3 separate regions of the Homo sapiens genome follow, and all the other regions are linked to region 3. A link means that fine-mapping ties the variant in region 3 to the expression of a gene that starts in the linked region. Tissue or cell type: whole blood. Region 3 holds a variant in brackets; each other region holds the start of a gene. Each region is shown on its reference strand, or each on the opposite one. Region 1 holds the start of ATP6V0C (ATPase H+ transporting V0 subunit c). Region 2 holds the start of LINC02915 (long intergenic non-protein coding RNA 2915). Region 3 overlaps TRIM58 (tripartite motif containing 58).

Evidence for each region. PIP is the estimated chance that this variant, and not a neighbour inherited with it, causes the effect. A credible set is the group of variants that fine-mapping cannot tell apart.
Region 1: it holds the start of ATP6V0C, and the variant in region 3 is the best candidate, but not a certain one, in a credible set for the expression of ATP6V0C in whole blood (TOPMed, PIP 0.65).
Region 2: it holds the start of LINC02915, and the variant in region 3 is fine-mapped to the expression of LINC02915 in whole blood (TOPMed, PIP above 0.99).

The regions. Positions count from the first base shown.
Region 1 is chr16:2,510,746-2,516,559 of GRCh38, reverse strand. ATP6V0C (ATPase H+ transporting V0 subunit c) reads right to left here and starts at 2,608. Exons shown (of 3, transcript NM_001694.4): 1 at 2,378-2,608. The coding sequence starts at 2,456. RefSeq lists silencers at 1,853-1,992, 2,413-2,892 and enhancers at 3,798-4,092, 4,883-5,486.
Region 2 is chr15:39,247,954-39,253,836 of GRCh38, reverse strand. LINC02915 (long intergenic non-protein coding RNA 2915) reads right to left here and starts at 3,168. Exons shown (of 2, transcript NR_144508.1): 1 at 2,974-3,168; 2 at 1-1,778. All of the region lies in intron 1 of LOC105370777 (a long non-coding RNA gene), which reads left to right.
Region 3 is chr1:247,872,279-247,878,032 of GRCh38, reverse strand. It overlaps TRIM58 (tripartite motif containing 58), which reads right to left. Exons shown (of 6, transcript NM_015431.4): 6 at 1-2,133. The coding sequence ends at 1,544. Among named protein-coding and RNA genes, the nearest start is that of TRIM58, 18 kb to the right of the region's middle. The variant G/A (reference allele first, on the strand shown) is at 1,884.

The DNA.
Region 1 (5,814 bases), not on the chromosome of region 3:
CCAGGAGCTGGGGACACAGCTGGAGGTTGGCGTTGTGGCAACAGCAGAGGCCACTGGAGGGCAGGGGGCTTGTTTAGGTCGGCACAGCAGGTGAAGCCAGGTCCTGGAGGAAAGCATGCTGAGAAGGCAGAAATGAAGTCAGAAGTTGAGCCAGTCATGGTGGCTCATGCCTATAATCCCAGCCCTTTACGAGGCAGAAGCAGGTGGATCGTTTGAGGCAACAAGGAGTTTGAGACCAGCCTGAGCCACATGGCGAGACCCTGTCTCTAAAAAAAAAAAATTAGCTGGGCATGGTAGCCTGTGCCTGTAGTCCTAGTTATTCAGGAGGCTGAGGCAGGAGGATTGCTTGAGCCTGGGAGGTTGAGGCTGTAGTGAGCCATGACCACACCACTGCACTCCAGCCTGGGAAACAGAGCAAGACCCTGTCTTGAGGAGGGGAGAAAAAAAAAAAAAAAAAAAAAAGCAGTTGTCTGAATTGGCCAAGTGAAGTCAGAGGTCAGCTCCTGGAGAGCCACAGTAAGCCACGTTTATCCCGAAGAGCCAGGGATAAGCAGGAAAGGCCTAGGCCAGCAATACCGTGTTCTCAATTTCCAGACACCTGCTGGTCAGGCTGCCCAAAGACCTGTGTAGGTCTTGACGGAGAGAGAGGAAAGGAGCTGGGTGCAGAAAAAGGGCTTGGTGGACAAACTCAGGGCTTCAAGGGCAAGCAGCAACAGCTAGAATTTAAGTTCCACATGGGCGGGGATCCCATTTTGTTCACTGCTGTCCTACCAGTACCTGGCACATAGTAAGCGCTCAATCAAGATTGTTTGGATGAATGAGTGACAGCCACAAGCTAATACCCCACAGGTGGCCAGGCAAAATGGAATCTCTGAAGGCATTCTGAGGGCAAAGAACAGAGGAGGCTGGGGGGAAGGGCTCGGCAGCCTGTTGGGAGAAGCCTTGAGTCTGTGGAAAGAGCAGGCGGTGCCTAGGGGGAAGGAGAAGTCTAGACCACTTCTTCCACCACAAATGACCCCTTACTTGCACACGACGGGAAGGCCAGGGCTCACTCACGAATGGCAGACAGGCCCAGGCAGAAGGAGGCCCGCAAGAGAACAGAGAGCTCCAAGCCCCCACCCCACAGGTGTTTACAGTCAGCAGAGACTGTTTGGAGTTCAAACCCTCCACATATCTGCACTAGGAGCCTCCCCAGGCCACCAGGCAGGGTGGGGCAGGGCACGGTCATCAAAGCTAAAACCAGACCTAACCACGGAGGCGGAAATCAGACCAGGCCAGGCCAGTCCACGGAGGCTGAGACTGGGCCAGAACTTAACTCGTCGGACCCACATTCCTGGGCCTAGCCCTAGCCCAAGTGCCATTCTCCCAGGGAGACCAATTGTCACTAAATTGGACGCCCAGGACCTGTCAAGGCCCAATTTCAAAAGCAGGGTGCCACCAAGAACCCTAGAAGGCCCCTTCTCCAAGCCCAGGGAAGCCCCTCCCAACTTCAGGCCTCAGGGAGGGAAAGGAAGGTCATTCATTCACCCCTCCATTCATTAGGACCACAACTGGAAGCCTCAGTCCTGAGGGCAACGACTGGATCCCATAAACTCGGACACCCATGCCACCCTCTCACCCACCTCAGAGCACAGACCCTCTGCAAGCTACACAGCCCCGCCAGCGCCGATGCTGCTGTCTCCCCGCTCCCTCCACTTCCACACACTCCCACCCGGGTCTCCGCGGGCTCTCCGAACCAAGCCCTCAGCCCAGCTTTCCCAAACAGCCCACACAGCGACACGGGTATTGGGCAACTGTAACCAGCTCCAACCGGAAGTACCTGCCTGTGGGTGAGACCCACCTGACCCTCGGGGCCGGCCGCCATAAGGGCGAGGGCTGAGGACCTCCCGTGGGGGACATGGGCTCCCCACCAGCCGGAAAGCTCCAGCGACCGGCTGGGCGTTCCTGGGCCGGACCCGCGCCGCCGCCCGCGCACTGGGGCCTTCGAGGTGTGATGTCACCTGCCCGCAGAATCGGCCCCCCTCGCGCCGCCCCCCTCGCGCCCCCACCCCAGCCTCCCTCTCGCCGCTCCCGGGGCTAATATGGCAGCGGCGCCGCCGCCCCACCCCCGCAACCGCACGACCCGGCTGGCAGGGCCGCCGGCCCGGACCCCCGAGACTCACACCCCGGCCAGGCCCGCACGCCCTGCGCCCCGGACCCCCGGCGGCTCCCCGCAGCCCTCGGGGCGCCGACCCCCGCCCGCTGTCACACGAGGCCCGGGCGCCCCCGACAGCTCGGGATTACGTCAGAGTGACGTCACACACCGGACCCCGGCGAGCTGCGGGCATGAGCAACGCGCGCGCCCCCGCCCCCGAGTCCCTCCCGCCGCCGCGCTCACCGCTGAAGACCATGGCGGCCGAGGCGCCCATGACGGCGAAAAACGAAGCATACTCGGGGCCGCTCTTGGACTCGGACATGTCTGCGGGTGGGGAGGGGGCAAGCTCTGCGGGCCGAGGCGGTGGCGGAGGCGGGGGCGAGGACGGGCCGGGCACGAAGGTTTGCGGGCGGGCGGCGGCGAAGGCGATCCGGCCCGTCAGCCGCTGCGCTCTAAATACCAGCACCGCAGAACAAAATGGCGGCCGCGGCCGCGTCACATGACCTGGGCCCCGCCCCTGCGAGCCGTACCACTTCGCACCGTGGGGGAGACGCGTCCCCGGGACGCCCGGCCGGCCCGTTGACCTCCCCCGGGCTGTGCCGCCCGCCCAGCGACCCGGCCCCGGCGCCCGGCCCCGCCCTGCCTCGGCCTCCGCGGGTGTTTCCGGGCGCCGCCGGCCTCTGGATCTCCGCAGCGTTGGACCGGTCTCGCGCCGGGGCGGGGCGGTGTGGTGTGTGCTTCATTAGCATACGGGGCGGGGCCTCGGACGCCCCGCCTCCTCTGCGGCTGCGCGTCGTCTGCAGGTGTTGGGTTCCCGGCGACGCTTTTCTTTGTACCCCTGGCGTGAAGCTGCAGGCCGTGGTTTCGCGGCCTTGCCCCCAAGACGGGGCCTCACCCCTCCGGGCGCTGGTCTTCCAGGATCTCCCTACCAATCCTGGGCGAGCTAAGGGTCCCAGCAGATGTGCGGCGCGCGGGCCTCCTCTGCCACAGCGTCCGGAAAAGCCCCCAGCCCACACCTGTGAAGTCCCAGCCCGTGGCTGCGGTCACCTCCCTCCACCCTGTCCCCAGTCTCCTCCAGACCCAGACCTACTGCCTCTGACCCAGCAGTTGGTGACTTCACCTCTCGCTTCGGAGAAAAAGGACCCCCTCCCCGCACCTGTCTCTGCCTTTGCATCAGGGACCCAAACATTAGTGGGGTGTGTCTCTGCCCCTCAAGATGTAGGCATGACTGGTGGAAGCCCTGTCGGAACTGCGACCTCTGGAGGCCCCCCGGGCTCTGCACGTTCTGGCGTCCTGGTCCTCCCACCTGTCCTTGCAGCCACCCACTCACGCAAAGCCTGCACCTTCAGGGCCATCTTTCTGTCTTTCTGGAGCAGTTGGAGCGGTTCCCGCAGCCGTGAAAGCAGCCCAGCCAGGGCTGGCGCTGCCCTACTGATCCTGTGTGGCAGTCCCTGGCACCCCCTCTGCCTGATCTCCATTCCCCCTTTCAGGGGCCCTGGGCAGCTGCCACCAGGCCTGAGTGTCCTTTGAGCTCTAAGGCCTCATCCTGGGTTAGAGCTCTCCCTGAGTAGCCTGGATGCTGGCTCATCACCTTCTCTATGTAGGCAATGGGGTCATGGCCCCTGGTCTGGCCCTCCTGCTGGACTCAGCCCCACCTTCCCCAGCAGGAGCCTCCCTCAAGCCCCTTCCCCAGGCTAGCCTGGGTCTGCCACTCTTGGAACTTGCAGCCCGTGAAAGTCCCTAAGTCTGTCCTGGTTCAAAGGAGAGGAGGCAACAGATACGGCCAGAGGCCCTTTCTGCTCCTCCCTCTTTCTTGCCCGGCCCTTGTTTCTGAGAAGACGAATCTTCACTCTGTCTCCACCTCCTCACCTGCCCTTCCCTCTCCAGCTCCTTGCCCTTGCCAAGGTCACTGGTGACCGCCATTTCTCTAAGCAGAAGGACATCTGTCAGGCTGTCCAAGTGGACCTCTGTGCTGCGTGGCCTGCCACCCTCTCCACACACTCTCCTCTCTCCTGCGGACTTCCTAAATCTCAGACGCCCTCATTCTTCCTGGAGTCACAAGGCCCTGTAGCCCCAATTTTGCTGCAGGTCCTGGCATACCCAGGGCTACCCCTAGCTCTGCCCTTCCCCTGCTTGATCCCATCCTTTCCCTGGCTTTGTCCCCCATCTTACGCCGTCTTGTCCCTCACCTGCACCATTCCAGCCCCGACCGCCCTCTGAGTGAGAGCAACACCAGTGCCTGCCCCCATAACTCCAAGCCCTCCAGGAAAGCCTAGGCCAGGAAGGCTGTGCCTGGGGCCGAATTCAGACCAAGGAAAGGTGGCGCAGAGCAGCCCACCATGGAGAAACAGCACAGTCCAAGCTCAGGGGTGGGCTGGGCACGGTGGCTCCCGCCTGTAATCCCAGCACTGTGGGAGGCCGAGGCAGGAGGATTGCTTGATCCCAGGAGTTTAAGACCAGCCTGGGCAACAAAGTGAGACCTCGTCTCAAACAAAACATTGTAGGGTGGGCAAAGAGCACCTAACTCCATTGTGGCTGAAACACCAGGACTGGGGACATGGGGACGTGGAGAGACTTCCCTCTTGCAGGAGCAGGGAGTGGGTCAGCTGTGCTCACTGGCCTCTTACCCATTCATTTTCTGCCTAAGTTCTAGTGTGAGAGGTCACACCGGGTCTCCAGTGTGGCTCCTGACACTTCAAGCTGGCGTGTCTGAAGCTGAGCTCGCCCCCACCCCTTCACCACCACCTTCCACTGGGCTATTTCCATTCCCGCAGAAGGCACGCCCATCCCCCCGCAGCCTGACGTCACGCCACTGCTCCCTCCCCACTCTGTATTACTCAGGATCCCGAGATCCTGCCTCCCCAGCTTGTGTCCGCGCCCGCGCCCCTGCCCCTGCCGCTGCCTGGCCTAGGTCTTCTCATCGCCTACCCCCAATCAACCGAGTCTTCACCTTAAAGCCACAGGTTCTTTCCAAAGGGCACTTTCCATCCTGGAATCCTTCGGCCCCTCAAGAGCCCTCCCTGGTCCCCTCCCGCTTCTCATCACCAGCCCCCCAACGTGTCTGCATCACCTGTGTCTGCACCAACTCTCTTCCTCACTCCCTACTTAAGAAATGCACCTCAGTTGGCGGGGTGCCTATAATCCCAACATTTTGGGAGGCCGAGGCGGGTGGATCACGAGTCAGGAGATGGAGACCTCCTGGCTAACACAGTTAAACCCTGTCTCTACTAAAAATACAAAAAATTAGCTGGGCGTGGTGGCACACACCTGTAATCCCAGCTACTGCAGAGGCTGAGGCAGGAGAATCGCTTGAACCCGGGAGGCGGAGGTTGCAGTGAGCTGAGACAGCCTCACTGCATTCCAGCCTGGGCGACAGAGTGAGACTCTGTCTCAAAAAAAAAAAAAAAGAAATGGGTCTCAGTATTTAGAACACCACCTCCTCCAGGAAGCCCCCACTTTCCTTCCCCTCCTTCTTCCTCCTCAGACACCCCCTTCAGGCCTCTCTGGATGCTCCCCTCACACTCTGTGATTTTTTTTTTTTTTTTTTTGAGATGGCGTCTCACTCTGTCACCCAGGCTGGAGTGCAGTGGCGCGATCTTGGCTCACTGCAACCTCCACCTCCCGGGTTCAAGCGATTCTCCTGCCTCAGCCTCTGGAGTAGCTGGGACTACAGGCGCCGG
Region 2 (5,883 bases), not on the chromosome of region 3:
AGTAGGCAGCTATTAAGAGACGAGTGTAACTCTGGATAGAAGTTTCTATGGTTTCTGCCTTCAGCCTTGTCATGTTCAACATTCTAATCAAGACCTAGATCAAAGGAGAAGTTGATGAGCTTAGTATTCAGCTGAGAGAGATGGGCTATGTTGGCTAGAAATTAAGCAATGAGCTCAATCTAGAAGATACAAGTTCTGAAGTTGGACTCTTAGAAGCAACTGAGGCTCAAGCACTTCTGTAGGCACTACATTCTGGGTAATTTAAAAAATGTGTATACTTATTCTCACATCCTTTAAGCTCAGCTGAAATCTACTCTGCAAAGTCATGCTTGAACCCTTGCTTTGAGCTAAGTGTTCTGTCAATTCCAACATATACACCTGTAATAAAACTGCTGAAATAATGTTAAAGACTCTTTAAAGCCAGGATCTTTACCATATTAATTTTCGTACTCCCAATGTCTAGCGTAGTGCCCAGCACATAAGGAATTTCCAATAAATTATCGGCTGTTGCTAGAATAAAAATTCAAAAGTAGGCAGTGTTGAGTTGGCAACTTAATTTTCTAAAAAGTATTAATTGCCTGCCTATATGGACAATAGAAACAACAACAACAAGAATATCCTGCCAATAAATCAGGCTTTTTGGCTGGTGCCTTGTAGTGCCTTGTAAATATTAGTAAGCATGTTTCCTATTCTAAAGTAGGTTTAAAAAAAAAAAAACTTAAATTCAGTAACTTCGTTTCACCTTCTTGAAGAACCTGCATTTCCTTTACATTTATAACCATTAGAGTGAGGCATGTTAAATAATTCAAATGAGAAATCCTAGTTTCCACCTTTATGTATCTCTCGGGTTTTCCTTTGTTCACCCAGTCTCCTGCAAAAATCATCAAATGTTCAAATTTATAGTTTGTGACTTGGTCACCCTGAACCTCTTGGTGACCCGGAATGAACATGAGATGCTGTTATTTAGCACTTGGAGCTCAGTTAGATATTAGTTTTCCTATAGTGAAATACTCTGATGCCAGTGAGGAAGGAAATCAGAAACAGGAATCAGACGATTCTGGCCAATCCTCCCAATACGAGGAGAGTGTCACTGACGGAAATGGGTCTGGATACTGGGTTTCTCTCTCCTAAATCCTTTGATGCCAGTTATTAAAATGGGTTACTTCTTACAGCCATGACATTGAACACTTCAATGAAATGATGCAAGATTTGGACTCCAAAATGTCCCCTCTCTCCCCTGTCAGCAGCATGAGCCTGAGCACGGCAAGAGTCAGCCAATATAGTGCACACACGCTTTGTTGAACTCATGTTCTTCCACCCAGGAGACTGAGGTTTCTGTGCAAAGAGTAATGTCAATCCGCTGGAAATCACTGGGTTGTCTGTTTCTTTGTTTATGACTTCTCCATATAGTTGGTTCTGCTCCAACTTATTTGAAAGGGACATCTGTTGGATGATTTGATGTGATGTCTGTTCCCTGAAAGTCATTTCTGACAGGGCGATGTAAAGGAACCTGAGAGGGAGCTCCGTCATGTGATGAGTGGCTCTTAAGTGCAGGAACAGATTTGAGAGGATTATCCAAGACAGTAACTTCAAGATCAAACTAGGCCATGGAGTTAGCCATAAGGCTCTGCAAATTCTTTGCGGCTCAGCCCTCTGGGGTCTCCTGCCACCGTGCTTGCCAGTAATGAATTTCACTTCCATGTGGGATCTTTCAGGTCTTCTTGACACACTGAAGCCATATGTGTTTCAGCCACTTCAGACATCATCCTGCTCTTTAACTTGAAGAACAGTCTAAGTCAGTGAGGTTTGCCATGGCATCAAATCTCCTTTTAAACCCACACCGCTTGAATAATAACTATGATTCTGGATAGTTGACTCATGAATATTTCCTGCGAAGGAACAATGAGGGTATTCTGAGGAAATTAAATCCATACAAGTAATTCCCAAACTTTATTCATGTTTGAATACTTTCTAACTTCAAATGTTTTTACCAGACTGGTAACACATAGCAAAATCAACTGATAAGATTGTCCTTTTTTCTTTCTTCCTCTTCCTCTACCTAACACTTCTCTAGTGTGGTACTAACTGGAGAAGGCACAAAGAGTAAGTAGATAGAAAGGGAAATGAAAAGTCAAAGAGCCCTACACTTTTTTTTCCCCCCTCTCTCCTGGTAGTCCTACTTCAAAGGCAGTGTAGCTTTCTCAGAAAGGCCAACCCACACTCAGAGGGTGAAGTTGGAAAACCCCAGCAACCCTATGATACACAATAAACCCATGTAAGGAGGTGGTCCCTTACAAACAGTTGGCTATGAATATCTTCTTTCAAATAGTCTGACACTCGTGGCATAATTATTTTTGTAAGAGTCCTCAGGAAAGTCTGTTTTGAAATACTGCATAGCTTAAGACTACAATAGTACCTTGCATAGTTCAATGTAAACATATCCAGGTGGCTTGTGAAGAAGAGAGGAAGCCAGAGGTGATGCTTCTCTATAGGAAAATGACACTGCAGCCAGCCCCCCGAATCCTGAGAAGACCCTAAATACACCACTCCCCCTCCCCGACAACTACCCAAGTGATATCCTGTGAGTGACTGGATTCTAATCTATCGAATAGTTTCTGTACATGAAAAAAAAATCAATTTTGGAATAAGAGTTGCCAGCAGAAAGATTTCCATTTATTAGGCACCTACCAGGTGCCTGATTCTATTGGGTACATTAAAGATATTCTTTCATTTAGTTCTCACCTGGAAACTCTCAAGGCTTGTTCACATTTTACTGATGAGAGAAATAAGGCACAAGAAGATTAAACAAACAATCCAGGCCAACTCAAGTGGAGGGATGTGTGGTTGAGTTCAGGTCTGCCTGTAAATCGCTTGAGGCCAGAAACTTTTCTCTATTTTGTTCACTGATGTGTCCCAAGTGCCCAGAAGAATGCCTGGCAAATTGTAGCTGCTTAGTAAATATTGAATGATTACCTTAATGAGAGAATCCAGCACGTGTACTCCTAAGTATTATTCTCTACAGTTTCTCCTCAGTCTCCTCACTCCAGTCTGTTACCTGCCCCTTTCTCCCATCCCATTTCAAAGGGAAATGGAGCCCAGAGCTGCAGTGGATGCTGTAGAAAGTTATATCTCTGTGTACATCCTGCTGAAGGAATGGAGCGATTGTCAGGGAGCTGTGTCATTGAGTCTGAGGCCTTACTTCCTTGCTCTCCCCCTTCTATTTCCTGCTTCCTCCCACAAAGATTTTCTGAGTCCTTGCTGTGTGCTGAGCACTGGAGACTCACTATGAACAAAGTTGGTATGGTCCCTGTCCTTATGCAAATTATTGAATAAATTATAGGTACGGTGAGTGTTTTGACAGAGAGGTAAGAATGTTATAGAAACATATAACAAGAGGACTCAGACCTATTCTTTGAGGTCAGGAAAGACATCTTTGCAAATTTTAACTTTAAGACAAGATATTAAGGATAATTAAGAGTTCCTAATGTATACCTTGGGTTTCCTGGATGTCTCTGCCTAAGACACTTTTAGGGAGGAGTTAAGACTGTTTTCCTATAATACTAAGAAGTCATTTGCCTTTTCATTCTTATTGCATTACAAGTGTACAATGGAGTTTTACAGAAGCTGCATAACATAGATTTCACAACAGATTGAATGCAGAAGCAGACATGAGAATCCATTTATCCTTTAGTAAGCCAGATATTGGTAAGATTTGCAAAAAATGCATAACAGCACTACTAGTCTCACTCATGTATTTTTGGTTTTGGAAAACGTGGCTATGTTTTCATAAAATGTTATTTATGTTAAGGTATAATCAGTTTACTATGTTGTTTTAAAATGAATTAAATATTTAAAAAAGAATTGGTTCTAATTTGCAACATGATATAATGATATAATCTACCTTTTTTAAAATGAAAAGGTCTTTGGGGTTCTTCAGAAGATTTGAGAGCACAAAGGGGCCGAGCCCCAAAAGTTTGCGAATGGCTGAGCTAAGAGAAGAGGAGGAGGGAGTGTTCCACAGTGAATAAACAGCCTGTGTAAAAGCCCTTCCCTGGTATACGACTTGTAGTTTTGAGGATATTAAAGAAGTCCAATGTGGTTGGAACATAGAAAGTGATGGAGAGAGAATATAATATGCAGAACAATGGGTAAGCAGTGCCATATTTGAGAGCAATGACTTAATCTTAGGTCAGTGGGAAGTCACTGAAGGGTTTTAAGCAGGTTGGAATTGATGAGATACATGTTGAGAGAGGAAGGAAAAGGAAAGAAGAAAGGAAAAGAATGGGGGGACACAGAGAAGGGAGGTCAGGAGGCTTTTGGGGAAAACTTAGTAAGCTATGAGGGAGGGACAGTAGGGCTGGATAGAAGAGGATAGATGTAAATAATATTATGGAGAATCTAGAGGACTTGGGTTTGATTGTCAGTAGAGAGTGACTTGTTTTGTAAAAGAAGGAATGAATTTTCTCATGGTTTTTTAGTCATACCACTTGATTTTAAATTCTAGCGCTAATTCTGTGACTGTGAGCAAATTATTTAAACTCCATAAGCTACAATTTTCTCATCTGTAAAAAAAACAGGAACAAGAGCCACAATTTCATATGGTTGTTGAAGTTATTTTAAAATGCACACATATCTAATATAACTGGATTATCGTAATTATTTATTTGTTTCCCTTACCTTCTCTTTAACTCTCTTTCTTACCATTTTAAGATGGAGGGGGGAAGTTGGCAGTGTTCTTCAGGAAACATAAATTCTTGGGAAGGGAGTTTGGACACCATATGCAAAATCTCCTCCTGTGATTCCTCTACACACTGGAGGTGTGCTTTCCTCAAGCACTTGAAGCAAATGTGTTCTCTAGTCTCTTCTCTCTCTCTCTTTTTTTCCCTGAAGACTACTCTGTCATTTAAGTTCAGTTATTTTTGTCTTACCTGCTCACTTTGGACTTGAAACTTTGTCCCGTTCTTCTTGTTCCATAGTCTGATTCCTACTATTTTTTTCCTTCACCTTTCTCTTCCCAAAGTCTTAGGCTAGCCTTCTCTATTTCTCAGCTTTGTCATGCCCTTGACTTTGCAAGATTCTCTTTCCTGGCAACCACCATCTACAGACAAAATATTAATAACTTTGGAGGAGTTAGGACAGAGGCATTAAAATTATTGTAAATAAAGCCAGATAGTCCTTTTGACTGGGTCCTGAACTACCTTCTGTTATTCCTACAAGTATCTTTTGAAAGGCTGTTCTCAAATGCGTTGACTTGAGAATTTAGAGAAATATTCTTTCGGGCTGAAGGGAAAAGAGACAGAGAACTACAAGGTCACAGGACCATGACAATATGTTGCCTTTTGCCAAGTGGCCCTTATTAAACAGCCTAGGAGGTGAGTGGAGGAGAGCATGGGTCTGGCAGTCTGCCCTGGGACAAGGAGCTTTGTCTGCACGCAGGTTCCCAGCTCACAGACGGTCCATATTTGAATAGAGCCCATTGTTTACCACTTGGGTGGAAAACAGAGGAAATAGGCAATGAGTCAGGCACCCACTTGTTTCAAAAGGAATTTTTAAAAGAGTTTCAGGGAAATCTAAGAGAAAAATAGAAGTTTGAAGGAAGATGAAGGAGACAAGGACAAACTGAGGGCTGCTGGATGCTAATGACATGCTTTTCTTTGCTGATAGCCTATCATTCTGGGTCTGTGGGTTCCAACCCTGAACCTGAATCCAACAGGAAAGGTACTTCTGGAGAAGAGCTTCCACTCTGGGGAGGCATTCTGACTAAGATCTAATCTGAAGTAGTTTGGAGTAAATTGATCTGCCTCTTTTCTCCATTTAAAGGACATTTGCTAAAAATGCCTTCTTCTTCAAAGGGCCCGCAGAACAGAGAGAGGGGATTACAGT
Region 3 (5,754 bases):
CACCACCACGCCCAGCTAATTTCTTTTTGTATTTTTAGTAGAGACGGGGTTTCACTGTGTTAGCCAGGATGGTCTCAATCTCCTGACCTCGTGATCTGCCCACCTCGGCCTCCCAAAGTGCTGGGATTACAGGCGTGAGCCACTGTACCCAGACATAATAATTATTTAGAAGACAGTGATACAAAGAAGGCAGTAAGGTTAGCCTTCAATGACTTTTAACCTTTTTGTTGGAAAGGTACAGAATATACTTTAAAAATAAGTTAAATATTATCATGATTTCATCATCATCATTATAATGTATTTAAATGGAAAAGCTGAATTCAAACCAGCAATATCAAATATGACCTTAAATATTTACCATAACACAGTGAGGCCAGTATAATTGTTCCATGTATAGGAACCATAACAAGCAGCTAAAAGAGAGAGAGAAGTGTTGTTTGAGGTCTTTTTTCTTTTTTGAGATGGAGTCTCGCACTGGGCTGGAGTACAGTGGTGAGATATTGGCTCACTGCAACCTCCGCCTCCAGGGTTCAAGCAATTCTCCTGTCTCCACCTCCAGAATAGCTGGGATTACAGGCTCCTGCCACCATGCCCAGCTAATTTTTCTATTTTTTTTTTTTTTTTAGTAGAGACAGGGTTTCACCATGTTGGCCAGGCTGGTCTTGAACTCCTGAGCTTGTGATCCACCCGCCTCAGCCTCCCAAAGTGCTGGGATTACAGGCGTGAGCCACTGCACCCAGCCTTAAGGTCTTATAACTAGTAAATATCTGCATTAAAGAACGAGTTGAATGAAAATTCTGATAAATTCCTACTTAAAGTGTATCCAAAGAAAACGGAAAAAGTCTAGGAGTTAGTGATATTAGATTCAGAAGAATGAGCTTTGTAATTCTTAAAAATTAGTCTCAGAATAGAAAGGATTTTAAAAGTAATTGAGTAAAGTCATAGGAAATGTGACCATATAAAGGAATGGCTCTAAATGTATTAATCCAGAAGGAAGCAACAGGTTAAACAGTAAGAGGTAAGAAACAAAAAATAAGGAACAAGAGAGAGAGAGTGACAGGGAGAGAGAGACAGAGCGGGGAAGGAGAGAATGAGAAGGAAAATCAGGAAAACGAGGAGAAACAGAATTAAGGAGGTGATACTGGAATAGTATCAGACCATTCTGAATCAATTTAAGAATTGCCATGTCTAATTCTTATATGGAAGATTTGAAATACAAGGATATTGAAAGGAATAACAAATTATAATGAATGCATAGAAATCCTTATGTAATCCAAGGTCATTAATTTGAAGGAAGACATCAAGAAAATGTGATCTAGAAATAGAGGTTGAGATTGCTCCATTTACAAAATTATTATGCTCTATAATCTTCCCATATGCAAATATTTCATATTCCCTCTTTTGTCCCATGGACATATTTCACAGCAACAACGAATCAAGTGCTGACCTAAATGGGGTATCTGTTAAAACTTAGTATATTGATATCCTTCACCCCACTCCAGGAACGTTCGCTACGCTAGGACTGCATCTTGGGAACAGAATTTTAGAGATGATCATCTCTTACATCAGAAGCAGGATCTAAATGATCCCTGGATGCCCAATTTCCTGACCCTGCTATTGTTGTGGGTGGCAAGATAAGAGGAGTTGCATCACAGATGAAAAAGTAAGGCCGAAGAAGACCAGAGAAGAGTTGGTTGAATGTGTAGATATAAGATCCATCTGTGACATTGTAGAATGAAATTTCACCGGCTTCATAGTCCAAGAAAATCCCAATGCAGCGAGGACTTTCCAGTTGGAGAAGAGGCACTGATGGGGAGGCAAGGACCATGTACTCATTCCCTTTCAGCAGCCACAGGGCCCAGACCCCATTCTCAGGAGATGGC[G/A]TGGTTTCCCCCTTTCTTGGCAGTGTGTCTTGACAGACCCCTAAACCCCACTCTGCTCCTTCTCCCACCAGAACCTCCCAGTAATGCCTCCCTGATGAGAAGCTCTGCAAACCCAGGATGCAGGGCCATGTGTCAAATCGCTCAGGGTTGTTGGGGACATCCCTCCATGGTTCTCCATCCTGCACACTGCGCAGGTCGGCGGTCAAGAGCAGACTCGGGTGCGCCGTGGCGGGATCCAGCTTTACATCCACTGCGGAAAGAATGTGGTGGACCAGGTGAAAGGAAAGAAAGGACTGGTAGAAACTTAGGAAACCACTGAAAAGAATAGTCCCACAGTTCCTCACTTTTCTCTCTCTATTAACTCCTAGAGAAAACAAATCAGTATTTCACCTTACAGGTGAAATCTTCTTTATTACTTTATTATTCTTATTCTTTATAACTTTCTGGTATATTCCACTGTTACCTCTGCGTAACCCAGAACTCTTTAACTTTCCCAAAAAAAAACAACTATTGATGACGACAAACCAAGTGAATTATCATTTAGTTTCCTTTCATTTACATCTAAAGCATTTGTGTGTGTGTGTGTGCGTGAGAGAGAGAGAGAGAGACAGAGAGACGGGGTCTTGCTATGTTGCCCAGGCTGGAGTGCAGAGCTATTCATGGGCATAGCCGTGGTACACTACAGCCTCAAACTCCTGGACTCAAGCAATCCTCCCGTGTCTGCCTCCCCAGCAGCTGGGACTACAGGTGCACACCACCATGTCTGGCTTACATCCAAAGCATTTGAGTGCACTTAGGAGGATCTTCTGCATTTAACATAAAATTTATAAACCCCTTAGGAATTTTTTTCTTAAAAATCTATAGAATTTTATTAATATTAAATCCACTACTTCCAAAGTTATATTACTGTGGTAGGCGGAATTCTAAGATGGACCCCATGACCTTCACACCCTGGTGTTAGCCTCATGAGTATGTTACACTATATGACAAGAGAGAGATTATCAAGGTGCGTCTAATCAAATCCCACAAGTCCTGTAAAATCAGAAAGTTTTCTCTGGCTATTGGGTTGGTGGCAGCAGGAAAGGTCAATAAGATGTGGATTTGATATCTCTTTGCTGGCTTTGAAAATGGAAAGGTCACATGAAGAGACAAACGAGTGACCTCTAGAGCTGAGAGTGATCTCCAGAGCTGAGAATAGCCCCCAACCAACAGCCAGCAAGAAAACAGGAATCTCAGTACCGCATTTGCACAGAATTGTATTATGCCAACAACCTGAATAAGGTTGGAGGTAAGGTTCTTCCCCCGACCTACACAGAAGCCTGGCCTGGCCTGGCCAACACCCATATTTGGGCCTTGAGAAAACCTAAGCAGAGGAGCCAGCTGATCCCACTTGGATGTCTGGTCTTCAGAACCATGAGCTACTAAATGGTATGGCTTTAAGCACATAAGCTTGTAGTTATGCGTTATATAACAATAAAAAATACTGATACTCTGAAGTCCCAGTGAGATTGATGAGACATTTGACCCATATACATAATAAATAAATACATCTAGATATGAAACCTCAGTGAAGGGGGGATGTAAAATATTCAGTGCATTTCCTTATTAGCATTGCTTATAAGTAGTAAGTTAATAAATAATATGGTTTGGATGTGTATCGCCTCCCGGTCTCATGTTGAAATGTGATTCCCAATGTTGAAGGTGGGGCCTAGTGGGGGGTGCTGGATCATGGGTGCAGATCCCCCATGAATGACTTAGTGCCATCCCACTGGTGATAAGTGAGTTCTTTATCCGTTCATGCAAGAGCTGGTCGTTTAAGAGGAACCTGGGGCCTCCCCACTTCACTGCTTCCCTCTTGCCATGTGATACGCTGGCTCCTCCTTTGCTTTCCACCATGACTGTAGGTGTCCTGAGGCCTCACCAGAAACAGGTGCCAGCACCATGACTCCTGTACAGCCTACAGAACCATGAGCCAAAATAAAGCATATTTCCTTATATTAATAAATTACCCAGCCTCAGGTATTTCTTTATAGCAATGCAAAATCAGACTAACATGTTAATATAGTTTGATTTTTAATATCAGAACAAATACTGTTTCTACTGCTACTGCTACTGCTACTGCTACTACCACTACCACTATACTTATTTGCCTTTAAACACTTACAGTGAACTACTTTTTTTTTTGAAACGGAGTCTCGCTCTGTTGCCCAGTCTGGAGTGCAGTGGTGCAATCACAGCTCACTGCAGCCTCCACCTCTCAGACTCAAGCCATCCCCTGACCTCAGCCCTCTGAGTAGCTGGGAAGGCACACACCACCATGCCCAGCTAGTTTTCTGTATTTTTTTGTAGAGAAGGGGTTTTGCCATGTTGCCCAGGCTGGTCTCGAACTCCTGGGTTCAAGCAATCCATCCGCCTCAGCCTCCCAAAATGTTGGGATTACAGGCGTGAGCTGCCACGCCCGGTCTAGTGAATTTTTATTGATACCCAACCTGAGTGGTCACGTAACTGCGCATTGCATTATTTTTATTATGTAACCACCCTGAGGGTCACCATTGTCATCCCTACATTACACAAGAGTAGATTCAGAGTCAAAGAGTTTATGTGGTCTTCCCAAACTCTAGAGGTAAATAACAGAGATTGAAAGGTAGGTCTCCATGGATTGTGCATTTAACACAATCTAACAGGTCATGTATTCCCAAGCCATTCCTCTTCCGGCACAGTGGTCTGCTTCATTTCTAACAAAAGAGATCTGTGAAATGGCTTTTGATATGGTCTGTATCCCATTCCTCTCCCTACCCCTTCTCTCCTAAACTCAATTCTTCATCATGATGTGACCATACCCCAACCAAACTGCGCATGTCCATCTTCCCAGGGACCTCCGTGTTGATGAATGGTTACTTGTCAGTTTGTCTTTTTTTTAAGATGGAGTTTTGCTCTTGTTGCCCAGGCTGGAGTTCAATGGCATGATCTTGGCTTACTGCAACCCCCATCTCCCGGGTTCAAGTGATTCTCCTGCCTCAGCCTCCCGAGTAGCTGGGATTACAGGCATGCACCACCACGCCTGGCTAATTTTGTATTTTTAGTAGAGACAAGGTTTCCTCAGGTTGATCAGGCTGGTCTCGAACTCCTGACCTCAGGTGATCTGCCCGCCTCGGCCTCCCAAAGTGCAGGGATTTACAGGCGTGAGCCACCGCGCCCGGCCCAGAGTTCATCTTCAATGATTTTTCTGTATCTCTCAACACTGAGAATCTACTTGTGCTGGAAAATCTCCCTTTTCCAAAGGTAACACTCATCCATGTTTCCCTTCCCTCACTGCTCACTACTCCTTGATCCTCTTTGCTGTTCTCTTCTCCTCCACCACCACCACTGGAGAAACCTATAGTCCCAAGACTTGGACTTCTTCTCTCTCTCTCACCTCACTCCCTATCTACCCGGGTGCTGGCTGGTTCATTGCTTTGATAAAATTCCATTCATATGCTGACTGATTCCCAATGCATGTGCTTAGCTTTGAACTTTACCCTGAAACTCCCTATTGTACATTCATCTGCCCACTTGATAGCAACATTTGAATATTTAGCACTCATCGCAACATCCACATATCCAAAACCCTGTGCCCTTCTTCTGCTTCAACTGTCGCTTTCCTCATCAATATAAGTGGCAATCACATTTTGCCAGTTCGCAAGATCCAAAACCTTGGAATCATTCATGGCTCTTCCTGTTTATAGCACATCATATATAATCCAACAGCAAATCTTAACAGCTCTGCCTTCAGTATATAACAAAAATCTGTCCATCTTGCGGCACCTTCCGTAATAACATCTATTCCAACACATAATCATCTCTCATCAAATTACTGCAAAGACCCTTAACT